Linked DNA regions of Homo sapiens. The protein of the gene in region 1 interacts with the protein of each later gene in a pairwise test. Each region holds a gene or a part of one and is shown in the gene's direction. Other genes may lie near its edges. The genes, in order: C22orf39, BANP, CEP76, SPRED1, RIMBP3, PSMA1 and CRYBA2.

The links.
Region 2: the proteins of C22orf39 (region 1) and BANP interact in binary tests that used the Homo sapiens proteins (3 or more experiments, as listed by UniProt).
Region 3: the proteins of C22orf39 (region 1) and CEP76 interact in binary tests that used the Homo sapiens proteins (3 or more experiments, as listed by UniProt).
Region 4: the proteins of C22orf39 (region 1) and SPRED1 interact in binary tests that used the Homo sapiens proteins (3 or more experiments, as listed by UniProt).
Region 5: the proteins of C22orf39 (region 1) and RIMBP3 interact in binary tests that used the Homo sapiens proteins (3 or more experiments, as listed by UniProt).
Region 6: the proteins of C22orf39 (region 1) and PSMA1 interact in binary tests that used the Homo sapiens proteins (3 or more experiments, as listed by UniProt).
Region 7: the proteins of C22orf39 (region 1) and CRYBA2 interact in binary tests that used the Homo sapiens proteins (3 or more experiments, as listed by UniProt).

Annotation. Positions count from the first base shown.
Region 1 is NC_000022.11:19,442,549-19,444,711, reverse strand, and holds part of C22orf39 (synaptic plasticity regulator PANTS), read left to right. Parts: intron 1-321; coding exon 322-447; 3' UTR 448-2,163. UniProt on the Homo sapiens protein: Negatively regulates long-term potentiation and modulates adult synaptic plasticity. Stabilizes the interaction of RTN4 isoform A/Nogo-A with its receptors, inhibiting clustering of postsynaptic AMPA receptors at synaptic sites.
Region 2 is NC_000016.10:88,073,434-88,075,624, forward strand, and holds part of BANP (protein BANP), read left to right. Parts: intron 1-2,191. UniProt on the Homo sapiens protein: Controls V(D)J recombination during T-cell development by repressing T-cell receptor (TCR) beta enhancer function. Binds to scaffold/matrix attachment region beta (S/MARbeta), an ATC-rich DNA sequence located upstream of the TCR beta enhancer.
Region 3 is NC_000018.10:12,692,724-12,696,223, reverse strand, and holds part of CEP76 (centrosomal protein of 76 kDa), read left to right. Parts: intron 1-872; coding exon 873-970; intron 971-3,500. UniProt on the Homo sapiens protein: Centrosomal protein involved in regulation of centriole duplication. Required to limit centriole duplication to once per cell cycle by preventing centriole reduplication.
Region 4 is NC_000015.10:38,318,836-38,322,335, forward strand, and holds part of SPRED1 (sprouty-related, EVH1 domain-containing protein 1), read left to right. Parts: intron 1-3,405; coding exon 3,406-3,500. UniProt on the Homo sapiens protein: Tyrosine kinase substrate that inhibits growth-factor-mediated activation of MAP kinase. Negatively regulates hematopoiesis of bone marrow.
Region 5 is NC_000022.11:18,609,120-18,613,159, reverse strand, and holds the start of RIMBP3 (RIMS-binding protein 3A), read left to right. Parts: upstream 1-1,240; 5' UTR 1,241-1,725; coding exon 1,726-4,040. UniProt on the Homo sapiens protein: Probable component of the manchette, a microtubule-based structure which plays a key role in sperm head morphogenesis during late stages of sperm development.
Region 6 is NC_000011.10:14,513,887-14,517,386, reverse strand, and holds part of PSMA1 (proteasome subunit alpha type-1), read left to right. Parts: intron 1-2,895; coding exon 2,896-2,984; coding exon of another isoform or gene 2,985-3,034; exon of another isoform or gene 3,035-3,477; intron 3,478-3,499; coding exon 3,500-3,500. UniProt on the Homo sapiens protein: Component of the 20S core proteasome complex involved in the proteolytic degradation of most intracellular proteins. This complex plays numerous essential roles within the cell by associating with different regulatory particles.
Region 7 is NC_000002.12:218,990,623-218,994,762, reverse strand, and holds the start of CRYBA2 (beta-crystallin A2), read left to right. Parts: upstream 1-1,340; 5' UTR 1,341-1,586; coding exon 1,587-1,747; intron 1,748-2,519; coding exon 2,520-2,661; intron 2,662-3,768; coding exon 3,769-3,911; intron 3,912-4,140. UniProt on the Homo sapiens protein: Crystallins are the dominant structural components of the vertebrate eye lens.

The DNA of each region.
Region 1 (2,163 bases):
ATATGCCCCAGACTCACGAGGTCAACCAGAGCCATTGAGCCCTGAGGTCCAGGAGAAGATATTTAAAAATTCCTCAAATTATTATGACCTATTCAGTAGTTTTTCACAGTAGCTTGTGAGAAAAAAAATGATCTCCATCTCTGTGCGCTAATATGGAAGAATCGCCAAGGTATAGTAGGTGGAAGCAGCTGTGCTGCAGAGTGGTGTGTACCATAGGCCCTGCCTGTCCATCTGTGTTTCAGAGGGTGATGAGAGGGGGGAGGTACAGGGGTCTTGAGGGTGCTCAGAGCCTGGGGAGTGACTAGAGTCTCATTTGCACAGCAATCCCTCTGTGAGAGCGAGCGGGCACGAGTCCGGGCTGCACGGAAGCACATCCTGGTGTGGGCCCCGAGGCAGAGCCCCCCTCCAGACTGGCATCTCCCTCTGCCACAGGAGAAGGACGAGTGACAAGCATCCCTGCCATTGGCCTGTGCAGCTTCCTCAGTCTGTTTCAAGTTGCTGTTGCACAGCCCTGGGGACTGTGACCAGCCTACACAGTCTGGTGGGTCCCTGTGAGCTCTTGCTCACAGGAACATGGAGCAGGACATTGCTAGCCCTACTTGCCCACCCCTCACCTGCATGCAGGATACCCTGACACTGCGATGTTCTGCAGGACAATTGCACCGCTTTAGAGCTTCCAGGAGGCCAAGCATTATGGCAGGTACTTGTGAGCAGCCAGGTCAGGCTGGGCATGGTAGCATAGGAGATGGCGGTCCTGAGGTCTAGGCTTCTCAGGTAAACTGAAGGGTAGCCCTGACCTGTGTGGACACACAGGTGGGTCATAATGAGGTAGCTAAACAGTTGTGCCACTGTGAATGTCTTTCCTAGTCCTTGGGAAACTGCCTGCCACGTCCCAGGTTTGGTGAGCATTGTGAGTGCTCACACTCTGCTCCACTCGCTCAGTTCCACTGCACATGCAGGCAGGTGTGCCGAGCAGGTAGGGCTTGCTGGCCCCTCTGCACCAGCAGGCTTCACTTCTTAGGCTCCCAGGTCGGCCCCTGGAGACTCTGGTTTTTAAGAAATGCACACAGCTACAGAACACACAACCTTGCATAAAGAGGGTTTGTGGACTCAGCTGAAGAAATCCAAGTCCAAGACATATGGAATTAAGCACTCCTTCCCTCAAAATTTCCCCTGGTGGTTAATGTATCAAAAGCTATTTCATCTGATTTCAAATAGAAGCTGAAAATTAAGTTCACACTTGTTAGATTTTGTGTGTAACAGTGTTGTACCTGGACAGTATTAGAAATTTGTATGCTTATTCTCTTGTTAAGTGTTTTAAAATGTATGAACCACCAAAAACACTATTTCTTGAAGAGGTCTGTTTATTACTAATAGAATGGTTTCTCATCCTATGGTGGCCCTGTTGTGTGATGCTGAGGGCTAGGCTGGGTCTGTGCCCAGCACCCTCCCTGCTCTCTTCCTGGACACAGGCAGCAAGTTGAATATCTTTTAATTTGTTCTTTGGGGCAGAATAATCTATCACGTTAGAAGGGTGTCCATTAAAGAACAGTATTTCCCTGCTTGAGTGTGTTTTCTCCTGTGCTCCCTAAGAGCCCCTGTGTCTGTGAACAGTGGGGGTGGGGGTGGGGGTTGTGCTCACGGGATCCCAAGAGCAGGAGCATCTAAAGAGGAGCCAGCGTTCCCCCATCATCAGGGGAGTACTGATGTGTCTAAGGCAACCAGGGTGCCTCCAGCATGGCTGTGGCTGGTTTAATAATGAGCATTTCCACCCAGTGAGGGAAGAGAGGAAGACTGCTAGAGATCTACAAGGTTTTTCTTACTCTTAAACACAGGGACGGGGCATCTGAATTTGCAGTCTGCTGTAATCCCAGCACTTTGGGAGGCCAAGGTGGGTGGATCACTTGAGGTCTGGAGTTTGAGACCAGCCTGGCCAACATGGTTGAAACCCCCCATCTCTATTAAAAATACAAAAATTAACTGGGCATGGTGGCACGTGCCTGTGATCCCAGCTACTCGGGAAGCTGAGACAGGAGAATTGCTTGAACCCCAGAGGCAGAGGTTGCAGTGAGCTGAGATCGTGCCACTGTACTCCAGCCTGGGCGACAGAGTGAGACTCTTGTCTCAAAGATAAAATAATAAAATGAGTTTGCAGCCTGCATG
Region 2 (2,191 bases), on another chromosome or scaffold:
CCGCAGAGGCGCGCCCTGTACTCTGCGTGGTGTTTGGTTCCACATTGTCGCCGACCTCACTGGAGATGCGCTGGAAGCACGGTGAGGGCCATGGGCGCAGAACGCACAGGCAGTGAGGAGCGGGTGGGTGGGATGGTGAAGGCAAACTCGTTCGGCAGCGCTTATTTTATGTGGTGTGAACCTTGGCCTGTCCGTGAAGAACAGTCAGGCGTGGCTGCCTCAGCCCCTGCCGAGGACGCGTGGCAGCCCCCCGTGCCGTTCCAGATAGGAGCGCTGCAGGAGGGCAGTGAGGTCCGCGCCCAGGAAACTAGATGTGGGGGCCATGCCTGAGGGCGTCCTGCTGCATTATAAGTTTCTGGTCATTTTCCGATTTCAGAATTGAACAAACCTGTGTCCCATGGTTGGTGTTTACACCCCTAGCTTCCTGTAAGCTCTCTCTGTTACCATGCCCTCCTGGCAGGCCCCAGGTGAATGATTTAATTAGGATCCATCGTAACAGCCAAGGAAGACGGCGTGCTTAAGGGGCCGCTTTCCCTGCAGAAAACCCCAGCGTGGTTGGACTTGGTGGTGAGCGGGTTTGCCCATCTGAGGCCAGACAACTGCAGGGTGCGTTAGCTTGTCACCAAGGGCCCAGCTCTCTGCCTTACCATCTCAGCTTGTCCTCAGGCTAGCTCTGCCCCACTGGGAAGTGACCGAAGGCCTTCATGGTGACTCTGCAGGCGTGACTGCACCCAACAGAGACAGGTTTCTGGTTGAGCCTCCTTATCCACATGAAGCCCCCACCCCAGTCATGCTTGGGAATGGTCTTGCATCTTGCATGGGTCAGAGCAGGGTCACGCGCTTGAGCTCGTTCTAGGAAAACCTGTGGCTCAGCTGTGAGGGCCTGGCTCTGAGAAGATGGGTTCCCTTAGGAGGGAAGGCAGGTAGCTGGCCTGTGGGGGTGGCCAATCCTCAAAGTGGAGAGTGGGGCCTGTTCCCTGGAGCAGTGGGTTGGGAGGGTAGGGGGGTGCCATTTGCAGGGGAAGACACTTGTCTTAATGCGCGGTGGCCTGTGGGTGTCACAGGCTCCCTGAACCATCTGTAGCAGAGGCAGCACCTCCACCAGCCTCTGCCCAGAACACAGGTCTGGCCACTGTCCTTGGAGGGCAAGTGAGTCCCAGCCAGCCCAGACCTGTGCCCCACTGTCCCCACCCACCCAAGTCCCCAGCTGCCTTTCCAGCTGTCTGGGGGAAGGGGCTTTGCATCCCAGGCGGTGGCCCCCCTACCCCAACCTCCCATGGCCTTCAGCCACCCACCCCAGGGCCCTGGTGTGGCTCCTCCATTCCAGCTGAGGTTCACCCCTTCCCGTTAGGCCTTCCCAGCTGTGGCCGGGCTCGCAGGAGACAGTCCTCATACTGACCCCTCATCCTACCCTGGAAGGCCCCTCCTCCATCCAGGGAACAGTATATCGAGTGTCATTTGACATTTGTCTTGAAAAAGCACAACCTGGACCAGGTGCAGTGTTTCATGCCTGTAATCCCAGTGCTTTGTGAGGCCGAGGCAGGGGCGTTGCTTGAGCCCAGGACTTCAAGACCAGCCTGGGCAACGTAGCGAGACCCCCATCTCTACAAAACGTAAAAAAATTAGCTGGGGCCGGGCACGGTAGCTCACGCCTGTAATCCCAGCATTTTGGGAGGCTGAGGCAGGCCAATCACCTGAGGTCAGGAGTTCGAGACCAGCCTGCTCAACCTGGTGAAACCCCATCTCTACTAAAAATACAAAAATTAGCCAGGCATGGTGGCAGGTGCCTGTAATCCCAGCTGCTCGGGAGGCTGAGGCAGGAGAACTGCTTGAACCCGGGAGGCGGAGGTTGCAATGAGTCGAGATTGCGCCACTGTGCTCCAGCCTAGGTGACAGAGTGAGACTCCGTCTCAAAAAAATTTAGCCGGGCGTGGTGGTGTGCACTGGTGGTCCCAGCTACTTGGGAGGCTGAGGTGGGAGGATCACTTGGGCCCATGAGGTCGAGGCGGCCGTGAGGTGTGCTTGCACTACTGCACTCCAACCTGGGCAACAGAGCAAGACCCTATCTCTAAAAAATAAAATGAAGCAGGACCTTAACTAGAGTAGAAGTTGCCAGGCCTCTTCCTCCCGTGGGCTCGGCCGTGGGCTCGTGGCTTCTCCTGGCTCTTCCTTTGTGGTTCCTGTGCCTTCC
Region 3 (3,500 bases), on another chromosome or scaffold:
AGTAATTTAGATTTTAATAAGTCATACCAAGAATGTATTTTTCTTTAAATAAAAATTATAGAAAAAGTGTCCTTTATGTAAGAAATTTATTTTCAAAAACAATACCCAATTTGTCTTCAAAAATAGGCCTAACATGATAATCGTAGCAGTGACCTGGAAACAAGCAGATTCTGATTCACTGAAGAAACATTAAATCGTTTTGATGTGAAGTATATTTGTTTTCTAGTTCTTTAAATCCAGGCATGGATTGAAAATTTCTACTCAGCCTGTAATTGGATAATGGGGAGTGACAAATGGGAGTTACTATAAGTGACAATATAAATGCTTTCTAATTTTTAGTGTGTGTGTGTGTGTGTGTGTGTGTGTGTGTGGAGAAGGAATGAGGTGTTAACAGTTGCTTTGACTTTGAATTTAATGTAAGTCTGGTTGATATTATACATTTAATTAAGACAAAAATTAAGAGTCTCAAATCCTTTAAGTCAGAAAAGTTTCTTAAAACCTGTTAGAAAAGCCAGGTGTAGTGGCTCATGCCTGTAATCCCACCAAGCACTTTGGAAGGCTGAGGCAGGAATATCACTTGAGCCCTGGAGTTTAAGACCAACCTGAATAACATAGGGAGACCCCATCTCTACTTAAAGAAGAAAAAGAGTGTCAGAAAGCTAAGAAAATAATCTCCTTATAATTAAACACCTTTGTTTAAAAAAATTGATTTGGTTCATTTTAATATGAATATTAAAGGTAATGTTGAATGTTATCTTTATTCCATGTAAGTGATAAAACACCCAAGTGCCTAAATTATTTTGGTTAGACTTTGGTTGACTAAATATATATAGTATTGAAATCTCTGAAGTTCAAAATATTTATGTTTATAGGCACAGAATCAAAAGTTTCTGTGGGAATTTTAAATATAAAACTTGAAATGTATCCACCACTCAATCAAACGTTATCTCAAGAAGTAGTGAACACACAGGTAAATACTTATGAGTTTCTCTTTTTTTGTGTGTTTGTTTTCATAGTAGTATATTTACCTGTTGATCCTAGAAAGCACTCTATTTTTAGAAAATTACCATTTATTACTTTCTAGATTAGCACTCAAAGGTTCACAAAAAGGATGAGGAAGAAAATAAAGACAAGATTGTTTTCCTAGCAGAATCTGTAGTCTAGTTTAGGAAATACGATGAACATTTATTGAGACAGCATAAGAATTACAGGATAGGCCGGTGGCTCACGCCTGTAGTCCCAGCACTTTGGGAGGCCGAGGCGGGCGGATCACAAGGTCAGGAGATCGTGACCATCCTGGCTAACACGGTGAAACCCCGCCTCTACTAAAAATACAAAAAAAAAAAATAGCCGGGCGTGGTGGCAGGCACCTGTAGTACCAGCTACCCGGGAGGCTGAGGCAGGAGAATGGCGTGAACCGGTAAGAGGAGCTTGCAGTGAGCCCAGATCGCACCAGTGCACTCCAGCCTGGGCAACAGAGCAAGACTCCATCTCAAAAAAAGAAAAAAAAAAAAAGAATTACAGGATAAAGCTGAAGAAGATCAAAGAGTAAAGTGCAACCTCAGTGGGATGGGATTTTAACGTTCTTTCGCAGGCGTTTATTGAAAGCTTGCTGCTTATGTCTTTTCTGCTCTGTTCTCTCAGGGTAGAAGTGCTTGCCACTTTTAGAGTGTGTTTGGAGAGGCTTTTTTCCCTAATTCCACTGTCAGGTCTCTGATGAATTACTTTCTTCCTGGGTCTTAAAAGATCGGCAGATTTTTTCATTCCTTCACATTGGATTTGCCATCCATGTTTAGTTCTTGCCAGTCTTTAGTTTGGAGGTTCTCATTATCTGCTGACTTGCCGGGATGGCACTTGTGGAATGGTTCTCCTTGATTACATACACCACCCTTTACTCCACCCTGCCTGTCATATTGTTCCTTTTACAGACCTGTGGTTAGACGCTAGTGCTTCTCCCTCAGGCAAACAATGTCCTGCCCTGTTTTCTTTAAACTTTTTTTCCTTCCTTTTGTAAACTCTCATCTCCCTCTAATCTCTAGCTTCTGACATGTGTCATGGGTGGTATATATACCTGAAACCACATAGTGAGAACCAACTTTGATGTTACTCAAATAAATACCCAGCCCTGTGGGAGGCTAAGGTGGGTGGATCACTTTTGAGTCCAGCAGTTTAGGACCAGCTTGGGCAACATAGTGAGACCCTGTCTCTACAAAAATTTTAAAAAATTAGTCAAGCATGGTGGTACATACTTGTAGTCCCAGCTGCTTGGGAAGCTGAAATGGGAGGATTGCTTGACCCAGGAATTTGAGGTTACAGTGAGCTGTGATTGTACCACTGCACACTAGCCTGGGTTACAGACTAAGACCCTGTCTCTTAAATAAATGGTGTATACACACATATACATTATGTGTATACGTGAGGGGTTTTTTTGTTTGTTTTTTTCAGACAGAGTCTCGCTCTGTCGCCAGGTTGGAGTGCAGTGGCGCAATCTTGGCTCACTGCAACGTCTGCCTGCCGAGTTCAAGCAATTCTCCTGCCTCAGTCTCCTGAGTAGCTGGGACTACAGGTGGGTGCCACCACGCCCAGCTAATTTTTGTATTTTTAATAGAGACAGGGTTTCACCATGTTGGCCAGGATGGTCTCGATCTCTTGACCTCGTGATCTGCCTGCCTCGGCCTCCCAAAGTGGTATACATGAGTTTTAATCATGTTATTCATATATTTATGTGACATATAAAGTAAATGTTTGGGCTCTACTTTTTTGGGGTAGTAGCTTGTTTTTTTTAATTAAATTTTATTTTTTTAGAGACAGCATCTCACTCTCTCAGGCTTGAGTGCAGTGGTGTGATTATAGCTCACTGAAACCTCAGACTCCCAGCCTCAAGCAATCCACCTGCCTCAGCCTCCCAAAACATTGGGATTGCAGACATGGACCATTGTGCCCCACCAGGTTCTCCTTTTTAAACTTAACATTATTTTATATGTATTTTCTTATATTTCCACTGTCATATTTATAATTTCTAGTGACTAAAACATAAGTTTATTCTATTATCTGATAAATAAATTGCTTCTAATTTTCTCTTTAAAATTGCACTATTAAAACTTTTAGCCAGGCTAATTAATCTGTAATCCCAGCACTTTGGGAGGCCAAGGTAAGAGGATCACTTCAGGCCAGGAGTTCAAGACCAGCCTGGGCAACATAGGTAGACTTCATCTCTACAAAAATTTTTAAAAATTAACTGCACATGGTGGTGCATTCCTGTAGTCCCAGCTACTGGGGAGGCTGAGGTGGGAGGATCGCTTAAGCCCAGGAATTCGAGGCTACAGTGAGCCATGATCATGCAGTAGCACTCCAGACTGGGTGACAGAGCAAGACCCTGTCTCTTAAAAGAAATTAAAGTCAGAAATATGTATGGATCCTAAATAGATGTCAAAATGTGCTAGACACTGTTCTAGACACTGGAGATGTAGCTGTGTATAGGGCAGCAGACAGCTAGACAG
Region 4 (3,500 bases), on another chromosome or scaffold:
TATTTAATCCACCATTGATGGACACCTAGGTTGATTCCATGTCTTTGCTATTGTGAATAGTGCTTGAACTTATTTTTAAAACTACTTTTTCTGTGAGTGTTGGGAGGCTCTAAACAATAGATGCCATTTGAAGACAAGATTAGGGTAGATCACATTGAAATTTTATTTGAGAGTTAATAGTTGAAAATATTAATTTTGTAAAATAGAAGAGGGGGCTAATTCAGTAATATTTTCATGTATTAAAAATTAATTTGGTGTTATTATTATATATTAAAAAACTAGAATCAAACTGTTTTTATGTCTTCCCCTTTTTAACAATTCCAATTTAGCATTGTTTTACAAAATACTGCTTTTCCCACTGTTTATGAATATAGTATAAATGTTGCAGTAATTTATGACACTACCATTTACTTCCCCTTGAATTCTAGAACTTAATCGTGAATTGTTGTTGTTGTTGCAAAATGGTTGTAACAAATATTTAATAGTAAATCTGTGTAAAATGCTTTAGCAAAGTGCCGACTCAAAAAAGCTCTGGATACATGTAAATTATTTTCTTTTTTTGAGACAGAGTTTTACTCTTGCTGCCTAGGCTGGAGTGCAATGGCATGATCTCGGCTCACTGCAACCTCTGCCTCCCAGGTTGAAGTGATTCTCCTGGCTCAGCCTCTCGAGTAGCTGAGATTACAGGTTCCCACCACCACGCCCGGCTAATTTTTGTATTTTAGTGGAGACGGGTTTCACTATGTTGGTCAGGATGGTCTTGAACTCCTGACCTCAGTTGATCCACCCGCCTCAGCCTCCCACAGGGCTGGGATTACAGGCGTGAGCCACTGTGCCTGGCGGTTAATTCTTTTCTAATACACATAGAGTCATCAAAGTATAGGAAGCAAAAGTCTTGAGAGAATTTCACTGCATTGCCTATAAACGGGCAGGACTGAACCTTAGTCACATTTTTGGTTATTTCTGAATTAATAAAACTTACTACCAAGAATTATTATATTCAGTGGTATGCTGATAAAAGGTTTAACAATCAGCTTTCAAGAGGGGACACAAGTCAATGATTTATAGCATTTACATACCTCTACCATGGCTGCTTTTACTCAACATGCCATCATTGCATATAGCATTGGGAAGAAATGAGCAGCAGTGTGGCATTATATAGTATTTCCACCGTACAGATATGACAGACATAAACTACCTCAAGAACCTAGGTAATTGTAAAAATATAGTAAAATAATTAGGAACTGATGAGTTTTGTGTATTTATTATTTTATTTTTAATGCAATTTATTTCATTGTAGAGTTATATATTCTAGCTTTTAACAATGGCTTCCAAAATTCTTGAAAATTTAATATCTGGCTCTTGGGAGCCAGTATAAGCAGACTCTAGCAGACCTCCCCTCCAAAAGTATAAATTAGAGATTCCTAGTCCATGATCTGTGAATGAGTTCCTTGGGAAGTGCATAAAGCCTAAAAGATTTCTGAGGAGAAGTATTGGTTGAGTACCTAATGTTTGTCTGCCACTGTAGTTTAAGGATTTGGCAAACAGACAAAGACCAGCTCATGCAGGGCCTAGTAGGTCATAGTAAGAATTTTAGTCTTGAAAGCATTGAAAAGACATTGAAACTAGGGAGTGGTCCAGTAAAGTTGCTATTTTTTTTTAAGAAAAATTATTACTCTACCTGCAGAGTAGTGCAATTACTATTAGTAATTCACTACTACTAGTAATATCTGAGGGGATCATCAGCAGTGCATGGAAGAGATGTGCAAGTGATAATGGTGATTGGAAAAGAGTGGAGGTAATGAAAATACAACCTTTCACCAAATACCAGCTGAGCATTTATTATGTGTCATGTGCTACTATGGGTTTCATTTGAATTATTTTTAATTCTTTTCCTCCTGTTTTCTTATAGGGGATTCTTAAAATAATTAAGGTGTGTAGTTCTAGTCTTTTTATTAGATTAATTGCAAAGATCACTAATATATCCACTTTTGTTTTATTTGACAACTAACATATATTAAAAGCATACTGTGAATATGATGAAAGACAGGCCCAGGAACGAAAGACTGAAGAGACCTTATAACTGTCCTGGAATGGATCCTATACTGGAAGGATTTTTAAAATGCTCTAAAAGGTGTTATTAGTATAGTAGGCAAAAGTGGAACGTGGTCTATGGAACATGGTCTATAGATTAAAGTTCTGTGTTGGTTTTAAATTTCCTGAATGAGATCACCATACTGTGATTACATAAGAGAATAGTATTGCACTTAGGAAATATACTCAAGTGTGTATTAAAGAGCAGTAGAACATAATATATGTAACTCCTTTGAAATAGTTCATAATAAAGTAAATTAAATGTTTATACATGGATATATGTGGAGAGAATGTTAAAAATTAATGTGATAAATCTGGATAAAGGGAAAACAGGAATTTTCTGTGTTATTCTTGTTACTTTTCTACAAATTTGAAATACTTTCAAAATAAAAAATTTAAAAACCAAGGGTATATTGCTTCATGCATTGCATGAAGCTCTTAACATGAATGCACATTCGGTCATTCCACTCTAAGCTCTGGGATATTTTAGTACTGCAATTTCTGTTTTACAGATGAGTAAACTAAGGCTTCAAAAGTTAGGTAACTCACTTAAATGCATATTTTGAAAAAGTGGCCAAGTGTATTTGTTTTACTGCTGTGACCATTAAATCCTTACACAAAATATAAATACGTCTTTTAAGAAGTTTAGGAAAATGACTTTATTTTGTTTTGTTTTGTTTTTGAGACAAAGTCTCACTGTGTTGCCCAGGTTGGAGTGCAGTGACGTGATCTCAACTCACTGCAACCTCCACCTCCTGGGCTCAGACGATTCTCCTGCCTCAGCCTCCTGAGTAGCTGGGATTACAGGCATGTACCTCCACACCCAGCTAATTTTTTATATTTTTAGTAGAGATGGGGTTTCACCATGTTGGCCACGCTGGTCTCAAACTCCTGATTTCAAGTGATCCGCCCGCCTCGGCCTCCCAAAGTGCTGGGATTACAGGTGTGAGCCACTGCCCCCAGCCAAAAATGACTTTAAAAAGTTAAATTTCTATTATTACCAACCCCCTGCCTGTTTCCTGGAAGTAATTCCTGATATATTCCTCCAGAAATTTTGTATGCAATGGGAGTGTATATATGTGTGTATTCTTAAAATGGGAGTATAATAAGCATCCTGTTTATAATGTGCATTTTTTTATTCCATCTTAATCTCTTTATTGAGTGACTTTGTGAAGTAGACCACTTTATTTAAAATACTAAAAATTATTCATTAAAAAGTAATAGCGTTGTATCACCTCAGTTTGTATTTATGAGCTACATTAGATGCATTTGATATATGTATATTAATTTTTGGTATTTGGCTTTTGTCAGGTGGTTTTGGAATGTATGCTTAAAAAAGACCTCATTTATAATAAGGTCACTCCAACATTTCACCACTGGAAGATTGATGACAAGAAGTTTGGTCT
Region 5 (4,040 bases), 830 kb from region 1:
CGATGTTCTTGTTACTTGACACTGCCTAAAGGCATGTTCTGTGGGTTCCGGGGAAACTGATTTGAAAAACTTGAGTGTTGTAAAGGAGGGCCATAAGCTGAGTGAACACAGCAGTTGTGAGAGGTCCCAGGTGCTTCCTGGGGACAGGGAGACACGACAGACCAAGAAGCAAAGGGGCCTCTGATGTGACTTCAATATCAAGGTCTTGTCGGGCACAGTGGCTCATGCCTGTAATCGCAGCACTTTAAGAGGCCGAGGCGGGTGGATCACTTGAGGTCAGAAGTTCAAGACCATCCTGGCCAACATACTGAAACCCTGTCTCTACTAAAAAGTACAAAAAATTAGCTGGGCATGGTGGCTCAAGCCTGTAATCCCAGCTACTTGGGAGGCTGAGGCAGGAGAATCTCTTGAACGTGGAAGGTAGAGGTTGCAATGAGCCAAGATTGCGCCACTGCACTCCAGCCTGGCGACAGAGTGGGGCCCCATCTCAAAAAAAAAAAAATCAATGTCTCGATGCAGACTGCCAGGTATCAGGTGTCCATCCATGTCTCCCAAAAGCCACTTGGCACCAGGAGCAGACAGGAAGGGCAAAGAGGAGCCAGACTGAAGCAGGGCTTCTTAGCTCCCAAGCCACACAGGTGGCCACCAGTCAGAGAGGCAGTGTGTGTGTGTGTGTGTGTGTGTGTGTGTATTTCTTCAGTTCAGTGTGTGTATGTATGTTTCTTCTGCAGCTCAGTGTATGTGTGTATTCCTTCAGCTCAGTATGTGTGTGTGTGTATGTTTCTTCTGCAGCTGTGTGTGTGTGTGTGTGTGTGTGTGTGTGTGTGTGTGTGTTTCTTCTGCAGCTCAGGATGCCTCCAACATTTCTGCTGAAGCCTCACCCTCACTCCTGGCCCATCCTGAGGCCTCTACCTAAGATGCCAATGAGTAGCCCAGACACTGGGGCTCCAGTGTTTGTCACCAGGTGGTACCTGGATGTGGGAGGTAGACAGGCCAGATGGCCAGTTTGGGCAGTGCCCCTCATGCCTATCTGGCCCTGGGTCCCTATGCCACCTTGCTGGGGAGGGTCTTTTCGCTTACACCTCCTCTGAGCCGACTCTGCGCAGTAACACAAATGTGTATCAGGCACATCCTTTCCTCAAAAGGTGGATGACCAGTTGGGTGATCAGGGCTGTTAGGGGGCTGAAGGGTCCTGGGGAGTCCAGGTCTAGCCAAGTTGAGGCCTATCCTGCTGCATTTTCCAGCCACCTGACCCAAATACACCACCTGAACCCACGACCAGGTATGCCCACACCCCATGGGTGGCCTTAACACACACACCCTGCCCCTTTCTCCAAGTACAGGAGCAGCAGCCCAGACTTCCCTCGGGGCACCGCGGCCTGCTTGGGACTGCACAGTGCCTGGGAGGGTGCCTGGGGAGGGTCACAAGGGACTTGGTGCTAGAAGCAGGAAAAGTGTAGGGACCGGAAAAGCCCCCGTGCATCCTGGAAGGGACATGGGCCAGTTTGAGCAGGGGTGTGGGAGTCCAGCCCTGGCCTTGCCAGGTGGAGAGGCGCCTGGGCCAGACATCCGCGGCAGGAGGCGGGGGAACATGCCAAGAGGCGGAAGGGGCACGCGGAGACCCCCAGGGGGCGCCGGAAGGGGCGCGCCGGGCGGTCGGCGGCGGCCGTTGGCGAGCTGAGGCCTGCCAGGCGAAGTCTGGAGACCAGCCGGGCCGCGGCCGCAATGGCCAAGGACTCGCCCAGCCCCTTGGGCGCGTCGCCCAAGAAGCCGGGCTGCTCCAGCCCGGCGGCGGCAGTGCTGGAGAACCAGAGGCGGGAGCTGGAGAAGCTACGGGCGGAGCTGGAGGCGGAGCGGGCAGGCTGGCGGGCGGAACGGCGGCGCTTCGCTGCCCGGGAGCGCCAGCTGCGTGAGGAGGCCGAGCGGGAGCGGCGACAGCTGGCTGACCGTCTGCGCTCCAAGTGGGAGGCACAGCGCAGCCGGGAGTTGCGGCAGCTGCAAGAGGAGATGCAGCGGGAACGCGAGGCCGAGATCCGGCAGCTGCTGCGCTGGAAGGAGGCCGAGCAGCGGCAGCTGCAGCAGCTGCTGCACCGGGAGCGCGATGGCGTGGTGCGCCAAGCCCGGGAGCTGCAGCGCCAGCTGGCCGAGGAGCTGGTGAACCGCGGCCACTGTAGCCGCCCGGGGGCGTCCGAGGTTTCCGCGGCGCAGTGCCGCTGTCGCCTGCAGGAAGTGTTGGCGCAGCTTCGCTGGCAGACTGACGGCGAGCAGGCGGCGCGCATCCGCTATCTGCAGGCGGCGCTGGAGGTGGAGCGCCAGCTCTTCCTCAAGTACATCCTGGCGCACTTCCGCGGGCACCCGGCTTTGTCGGGATCACCGGACCCCCAAGCTGTGCATTCCTTGGAAGAACCGCTGCCCCAGACCTCCAGCGGCTCTTGCCACGCCCCCAAACCCGCCTGCCAACTCGGATCTCTAGACAGCCTGAGTGCTGAAGTCGGTGTGCGCTCCCGCTCGCTAGGCCTGGTGTCCTCTGCGTGCTCCAGCTCCCCAGACGGCCTGCTCTCCACGCACGCCAGCTCCCTTGATTGCTTCGCACCTGCGTGTTCCCGCTCGCTTGACAGCACCCGGAGCCTCCCCAAGGCCTCCAAATCCGAGGAGCGGCCCTCCTCACCAGACACCTCCACCCCTGGCTCCCGGAGGCTCTCGCCGCCACCATCGCCACTCCCGCCGCCACCACCACCGTCAGCCCACAGGAAACTCAGCAACCCGCGGGGAGGAGAAGGCTCTGAGAGCCAGCCCTGCGAAGTCCTGACTCCCTCACCCCCGGGCCTGGGCCACCACGAGCTGATAAAGCTGAACTGGCTGCTGGCCAAGGCGTTGTGGGTGCTGGCGCGCCGCTGTTATACCCTGCAAGCGGAGAACAAGCAGCTGCGGCGTGCAGGCTGCCCCTACCAGGCAGACGAGAAGGTGAAGCGGCTCAAGGTAAAGCGCGCGGAGCTGACCGGGCTCGCGCGGCGCCTAGCTGACCGCGCCCGCAAGCTGCAGGAGACCAACCTCCGGGCCGTGAGCGCGCCTATACCCGGCGAGAGTTGCGCCGGCCTGGAGCTGTGCCAAGTCTTTGCCCGCCAGCGCGCTCGGGACCTGTCGGAGCAGGCGAGCGCGCCGCTGGCCAAGGACAAGCAGATCGAAGAGCTGCGGCAGGAGTGCCACCTCCTGCAGGCGCGTGTCGCCTCGGGTCCCTGCAGCGACCTGCATACTGGAAGGGGCGGCCCCTGCACCCAGTGGCTCAACGTCAGAGACTTAGACCGCCTGCAGCGCGAGTCCCAGCGGGAAGTGCTGCGCCTGCAGAGGCAGTTGATGCTTCAGCAGGGCAACGGTGGCGCTTGGCCCGAGGCGGGCGGCCAGAGCGCAACCTGCGAGGAGGTGCGACGGCAGATGCTGGCGCTGGAGCGCGAGCTGGACCAGCGGCGGCGCGAGTGCCAGGAGCTGGGCGCGCAGGCGGCCCCGGCGCGGCGACGTGGCGAGGAGGCCGAGACACAGCTGCAGGCGGCGCTGCTCAAAAACGCCTGGCTGGCGGAGGAGAATGGGCGGCTGCAGGCCAAGACCGACTGGGTGCGGAAGGTGGAGGCTGAGAATAGCGAAGTGCGCGGCCACCTGGGCCGCGCGTGTCAAGAGCGCGATGCCTCCGGCTTGATCGCCGAACAGCTGCTGCAGCAGGCGGCGCGCGGGCAGGACAGGCAGCAGCAGCTGCAACGCGACCCGCAGAAGGCCCTGTGTGACCTCCATCCTTCCTGGAAGGAGATACAGGCGCTCCAGTGTCGGCCTGGTCACCCTCCTGAACAGCCCTGGGAGACCAGTCAAATGCCGGAGTCCCAAGTTAAAGGTAGCAGAAGGCCCAAGTTCCACGCACGGCCTGAAGACTACGCAGTGTCACAGCCCAACAGAGACATACAGGAGAAAAGGGAAGCCTCCCTCGAGGAGAGCCCAGTTGCCCTTGGGGAGTCAGCCAGTGTCCCCCAAGTTTCAGAGACAGTCCCTGCCAG
Region 6 (3,500 bases), on another chromosome or scaffold:
CGTTTGAGACCCTGTTATGTCTAAGAAGAACGTGATACTTTTGTCTGGTTTCTAAGGACAAGCTGAACCACACTTGTTTTCTTTGTGCTTGTTTTCTTCAATACATCAGTATTTATTAGACATTTATTTTTTGCAATGCTCAATACTGGATACTGCAGGGTATACATAAGTGACTCAGACATGGATCTTGTCTTAAGGGAACTTGAAGGCAAGTTTATCTATAAACTCAAATGTAGTTTATCTATAATATAACAGAAAAATTTCTGTGAGAGTCTAGAAGAGACAGATTATTTATGGTTAAAAGGCAATACATAAATGAAGAGATAGGGCTTTGAAATTGCACATATTGAGTTCTCACCTTCACCACTTAGTATCTGAGATTTGGCTAAATACCTAAACACTGAATTTTTTCCAGTGTTTTCTTTATCAAGGCTATTTTTAAATGTTATTTATTTATTTTTTTGAGATGGAGTCTCACTCTCACCCAGGCTGGAGTGCAGTGGTGTGATCTCAGCTCACTGCAACCTCTACCTCCCAGGTTCAAGCGATTCTCCTGCCTCAGCCTCCCGAGTAGCTGGGATTACAGGCACCCGCCACCACGCCTGGCTAATTTTTGTATTTTTAGTAGAGACGGGGTTTCGCCATGTTGGCCAGGCTAGTCTTGAACTCCTGACCTCAGGTAATCTGCCCACCTCAGCCTCCCAAAGTGCTGGGATTATAGGTGTGAGCCACTGCACCCAGCCTATTTTTAAATATTTTAAATTGCCTACTGTAAACCACTAACACAGAGCCTTTCAGGTATTATGTGAGTATGTGTGTTGTGGATGGCAGGTAGTTAGCTAAAACTAATCTTGTAAATTTGTGATTTGATTAGGAAAGAAAGAATATAAATTATAAGGGTGGGCCTGGCACAGTGGCTCCTACCTATAATTCTAGCTCTTTGAGAAGCTTAAGGTCAAGAATTTGAGACCAGGGCAACATAGTGAATCCCCATCTCTACAAAAAATTTTAAAACTTAGCTGGGTGTGGTGGCACACACCTGTTGTCCTAGCTACTCAAAAGGCTGAGGTGGGAGGATTGCTTGAGCCTAGGATTTCAAGGTTGCAGTGAGCTATGATAGTGCCACTGTACTCTAGCGTAGGCAACAGAGTGAGACCCTATTCTTTTTTTTTTTTTTGAGACGGAGTCTCGCGCTGTCGCCCAGGCTAGAGTGCAGTGGTATGATCTCGGCTCACTGCAACCTCCGCCTCCAGAGTTCAAGGAATTCTTCTGCCTCAGCCTCCCGAGTAGCTGGGACTACAAGCATGTGCCACCACACCCGGCTAATTTTTGCATTTTTAGTAGAGACGAGGTTTCACCATATTGGCCAGGCTGGTCTAGAGCTCCTGACCTCGTGATCCACCTGCCTCGGCCTCCCAAAGTGCTGGGATTACAGGCGTGAGCCACAGCACCTAGCCGAGTGAGACCCTATTCTTAAAACAACAGCAGCAGCAAAAACAGTGTAAATAGTAATGCTATGGTTTAAGAATTTCAGGCTGAGCATGGTGTCTCATGCCTGTAATCCCAGCACTCTGGGAGGCTGAAGCGGGTGGATCACCTGAGGTCCGGAGTTCAAGACCAGCCTGGCCAACATGGTGAAACCCTGTCTCTACTAAAAATAAAAAAATTAGCTGAACGTGGTGGCAGGCACCTGTAATCCCAGCTACTTGGGAGGCTGAGGCAAGAGAATCGCTTGAACCCAGGAGGCAGAGGTTGCAGTGAGCTGAGATCATGCCATTGCACTCCAGCCTGGGCAACAAGAGCGAAACTCAGTATTAAAAAAAAAAAAAAAGAATTTCAATTTACTCAGCCAGTCCCTTGCTCTAAGTCAGCAATATAATGACAGCCTTAAGGGTTTCCACCTACTCTTCAAAATGGAAAATGTATTATATTATCAAACATTTTATTTAACCCAATCTATAAAATATTGCCATGCCAACACATAATCAATATAAAAACTTTATTAATGAGTTATTGCACGTTTTTAGGTACTAAGTCTTTGAAATTTGGTATGTTATTTTGTACTTGGTGTACATCTCAATTCAGTCTAGCTACTTTTCAAGAGCTCCATAGCCACATGTGATTATTGCCTGCCATATTGGGCAGTATACTTTTAGGCAGCATTGGGAAATGGACTTAAATATAAGTACTGAACAAATAGCTTGGTTCCTGTAGTCAACCATGTGATGATCAGATGTGACATACGCATATACTGGACAAAGCAACATTGAGAAAAAGGAGCATATCCATTTCTTGTTTATCTTATTTATAGGCATAAATTCTCTTCTCCCCAATGTTAACCTTGCTTGAATTTCATCAGATTTAACAGTGAGACTCAGCGGCTAGTGTCCAGTATCTCCTCTAGAGTGCTTCTTATGAATAGAAGTAACAGTGGCAGAAACACGTAAAGATCCCCCCTGCTGTGTTTTCCATTTCTTATATTTGCTCTTTTGGAGAAATGTTAGTCTGCTTTCAAGAAAAAAGGACAGAGTAGATAATCTTTTTGCTGGTTCGAGATCTAGAATTACGACAAGCTTGCTGACAGTGGGAAGGATAAGAGAAGAGAGGTTGCTGTTTTTCTTTTGTTCAGCCTTCTCTTCTCTGTTCCATAAGTGCTCTGATACAAAGATTTTCTAGAGCTAAAAAATGTTTCAGTCTTTTTTAAAAACCTTATGTGGCTCCAGAGTTTAGCACAAAAACGCACCCTTGCAGGCATGTCTTTCTTACCTTCTGTTTTTCTTATATGGATGTTATCCATGTAAACGCTTGGAAGAATTTGAAGTGAAATCAAACAATTTAGATTGGAATAGTTGTCTATAATTTGAAATTACTAAACTTTTTTTGTTTCTTTTTTAGTAATTTTATGCGTCAGGAGTGTTTGGATTCCAGATTTGTATTCGATAGACCACTGCCTGTGTCTCGTCTTGTATCTCTAATTGGAAGCAGTATCCTTTTTATGTTAGCATTTATGGATATGAACTTTGAAGGGTTTTGATACTTGTGTTAATTATTAGGAATATAATAATAATATGACATAGGTAAGATTGTGAAAACTTTAAAACAACAAATTGGATTGCTCTTTCATTAGCCTTTATAAGCAATTTATATTTGCTAGACACAAATAAGCCCAACTTCAGGAAAATCATCTAAGCATCTTTTTAGAGGGGATTTAAAGTTTCTTAATGGTTCTAGATGTCCCAAGAAATCCTAGACCCCTTGTATCCAAAACAAATCAGGTTTTAGATGGGAAGAAATTATTTTGCTGGCACTCTTTCTTAGGTTCGGTAGAAAGTCAAACATTTTATATTAGGCCAAAGAAATAGTGTCCTATTGCATTATTTCTCTGGTGGATTATGCAACAATTAAAGAATAAGCCAGAGACCTTTGTTAATAATGTATAATTTGAAAATAAAGACAGTACTTCATTCCTTGTTAAAACAAGCTCGTTAACCAGTCTAAGA
Region 7 (4,140 bases), on another chromosome or scaffold:
TTCTCTACACCCCCCACCCCCACCCCCACCGCCGCCTTTTCCCAGCTCACTCTGTCGCCCAGACTGGAGTGCAGTGGCTTGATTTCGGCTCACTGCAACCTCCACCTCCTGGGCTCAAGCAATTCTCCCATCTCAGGCTCCCAGGTAGCTGGGACTACAGGCGCATGCCAACACGCCCGGCTAATTTTTGTTTGTTTTTGCAGAGACGGGGTTTCACCATGTCGCCCAGGCTGGTCTCAAATTCCTGGGTTCAAGAGATCCTCCCACCTGGGCCTCCCAAAGTGCTGGGATCACAGGTGTGAACCACTGCGCCCGGCCCTGGGAGATTTCTTAGCTGTGACCCCTGCACCACATTCCAAAGCCCTCTGGGCCTCCACTTCTTCATCTGCGAAATGCAGGACAATAACAGTATCTTCCTAGCAGGTCAGTGTTAGAATTGATGGAGTTCACGCACCCGAAAGCCTGAGCAGAGAACTCGGCCTGAACTAAGCGCTTCATCCTCAGCTGCTAACTCTCAGGCAGACGTCGAGGCTGGAACCCTTAGAGCCTGGAGCTTTGTGGGAGACCCGCAGCGGCACCGGTTGAGCCGAGCTAAAGCCCAACATTCTTCCTACCTCCCGCGGCGAGCCACTCCCTAGGTGGCTATTATGCCTAAACACTGAGTAAACCGCGCGGCCCTCGGGCGGTCGTTTCCAGCGCCCGGCGCCGCCGCGTGGCGAGTCCTGACCACCGCCTCCTCTCCTTCCCGGGCCCGAGGACACCCCGGGGGCGCGGCGCAGGATCTGGGAACGCACGCTTGGGAGGAAAAGGGCCGCGATGGACCGATCCCCCAGGAAAAAGAGGACTGAGCACATGAAGCGAATCCTTTGGGCAGAGCCCTCTCTACCTCCGCCTTAGCATCGCCCAAAAGAGAGGCCTGGACTAGGGCCGAGGAAGGCTGGCGATTAGACTCTGGGAAGAACTTCCGCTCAGCGAGTCAGCAGCGCGGTCTTAGCCCGAGGCCCAGGGGAGGCCAGGTCCCTTCGTCCCCGAGGGCCGGGACAGGGAGGGCGCGTTCTGCCCCGAGGCCTGGCGTGCCCTGCCTGGCTCAGGCTGGAAAGAAAGAAAGCGCGGAGTCAGCCTGGGCTGCGGCGGGCGCGGGGTGCGCGCCTCAGCACTTTCTGTTGTCTTTCCCGCGGGCTGGGGCCACAGCGGCGGCTGCGGGAGAGGCCTCGGCTCCCCAGCGGAGACCAGAGCCGACCGCAGCCTGCCTGCTGACTCAGCGACCCCACCCCCGAGGGAAAGGGTGCGGACAGGGGGACAAGGCCCAGGTATAAAGCTCGGCCCGCCCGGCCGCGCGCAGCCTCGCAGCCGGTCCATTTCCCTCGCGTGCCGCGCTCACCCACCCGGTGAATGCCCTCTGCTGGGGTGGGGAAGGGAGGGGAGCGCGGGAAGACTGCGAGCCCCTGGCAGCCGGGTCCAGAGCTAGGCCGGGTCCAGCCCCCGGGTTCTTCATCCGCTACCCAGGTTGGGCAGGCTGTGTGTGGCTCGAAACGGGGCTCTTGAGACGCTGAGCGCGTGGTGCCACCCTTCCTGTCCGCAGCGGCATGAGCAGCGCCCCCGCGCCGGGCCCGGCGCCCGCCAGCCTCACGCTCTGGGACGAGGAGGACTTCCAGGGCCGTCGCTGTCGGCTGCTAAGCGACTGTGCGAACGTCTGCGAGCGCGGAGGCCTGCCCAGGGTGCGCTCGGTCAAGGTGGAAAACGGCGTGTGAGTGATTGCCTGGCCGCGGCTGGGCTGGGTTGAGGGGCGCTGGGTTCCACCGGCCTAGGCTCAGAGCCTCAGCCCCCTGTCCTGTGAGCCCTGGAGAGACCTGCCAACATGGGAAACCCCATAGCCTCCCCAAAATTCCCCACCCATCGCAAGATAAATCATGGGAAACTGTGTATTTTTGTGCTAGCTAAAGAGACACAGGCGAGAAGCGACCCCTTGAGGGTCCCTATGGGACCCCACCGTGAAGGGGTTTCTAGTGTACTTACACCCTTCCCAGAGTTTTTCTCTGTGCAAAATTAGAAGGCTCTGCACTTGGCTTAACAAAAGAAACCCAATCCCTTTCCCTGGCCCCACCCTGGTCTCCCAGAGCCCAGCTTTTCCCACCCTGCCGCCCCCTACCCCTGCCCCAGCTGAGGTCCCAGTTTCTGCTGTGATATTCGGGAGGGGTCCTCCAATGTGTCCCCATGCAAAGGCCTAAACCCTTGAGGCAGGAGCACTGGGTCGGGAGATCTTCATAACCAGGAAAACTCTTTCCCAACCTGGGGTCCTTGAGGGGGAAGCCTGGGCGCCTCAAACCCCAGAAAGCAGCAGGTTTTGGACCTTTAGTTCCGAGAGGGGCTGGATTGCCATACAATGGGGGTGTCAGGGGAAGGGTTTGGGGTTGGAGAAAAACATTGTGCTTCTCAGTCTTTTCAATCATGGCCGGCAAGGGGGAGGGCAGAGAGGGTGCGGCTGGGGCAGATACCTCCCAGCTCTTCTCCTTTTCCAGTTGGGTGGCCTTTGAGTACCCCGACTTCCAGGGACAGCAGTTCATTCTGGAGAAGGGAGACTATCCTCGCTGGAGCGCCTGGAGTGGCAGCAGCAGCCACAACAGCAACCAGCTGCTGTCCTTCCGGCCAGTGCTCTGCGCGGTGAGCACAGCCCACTTCTCCTCCCCTGCCTCCTAGCTCCAGGCCCTGGCCTCACCATGGCACCTAGAAAGGCTGTTCAAGCCCTGCATGGGGTGTGTGTAAACAAACTCCGAGATGGGTGGTAGTAGCATTATTTCTCAGAATCAGAAGGGTGTCTCCAAGAAAGTTGGGATTGTGGGCGTAGGCCCGGAGCCCAGAAATCATCACCACGGACAGCGCTGAGGCCATCCCAGTCCTGAGTGCCCAGGGTTCCCCCACATTCCATCGTCCACACGTGTGAGTGAGTGCCTCTGTCGTCACACAGCCATGTGAGGTCGGGTTGACTGCTGTTAGCCCCATACACAGGTGTGGAAATGGGGCTCAAAGGGACAAAGTGGCTTGCCCAGGGTCACTGAAAAGAGTCAGTCTCAGTGTGTTTGTGTGTGTGTTATTGTGTGTGTGAGGGTGTTGTTAATGAATCAAATACACCGAAAGAGAGGACCTCATTTTCCATTTGTGCCGACCTGGTTACTAGTAGGGCTGGGAAGTGGAGAGCAGAGGACCCAGCCCAGGCCAGCCCAATTCTTCTGTTCCAAGAGGCTGAAGAACCCTGCAGTGGGAAGGCCGGAGCCAAGATGCAATCAGTATTGATGCCCTGACATGTCTATTCTGATTCTGCCACCCAGTACCTCTTAGCTGGGCACTAATCTGTGAGAGGCTGTGCGAAGGGGCTGGGCAAGGGCTTGGGTAGTTAGTCAATGAGGACCTCAGGGAACTGTCTTGGTGAATGGGACAGATTTCTCTAAGGACCTCTGATTTTGCTCCTGCAAAATGGGCCCATGTCACAAGATGCTCTCTAGTCCTGACCTGAAAGGGTCTCTGGAAATCCTATCCCCCAATCACCTCCTTATCTCAAAGTCATGGGAGGGGCCAGGTTCGGGGGAACCTCTGAGCGATCCATTTCCCAGACTGCCAGGGAGCTGATGGGGTGAGCTCTGGGAGTGCCTGTGGGTCCTAGACAGCTTCACAGCTTGTGAGGTGCAGTGGGTGGGGGAAGTGAGGCAGAGGATGTATCCGTTAACCCTTTGGAAGCCCTGATCTTTCTGTCCTGATCTTGCTGTGCCTCAGAACCACAATGACAGCCGTGTGACACTGTTTGAGGGGGACAACTTCCAAGGCTGCAAGTTTGACCTCGTTGATGACTACCCATCCCTGCCCTCCATGGGCTGGGCCAGCAAGGATGTGGGTTCCCTCAAAGTCAGCTCCGGAGCGTGAGTCCTGGAACTGGAACCAGGGAGACAGAAGAGCAGGGAGGCAATGGGGACCAAGGAAGAGGGTGGAGAAAAGTGATGTGGGGAGGGCGCTAAGAGAGATATTGGGGACTTGGAGGCAAGGGGAGGGAGATGATGGAGTCAGACTGGAAGGGAGGAAATGAGGAGGTCCTAGGAGAATGGGGGGCAGCGGGCAATATGGGCACAGATGAAGGGCTGGAGAACATGA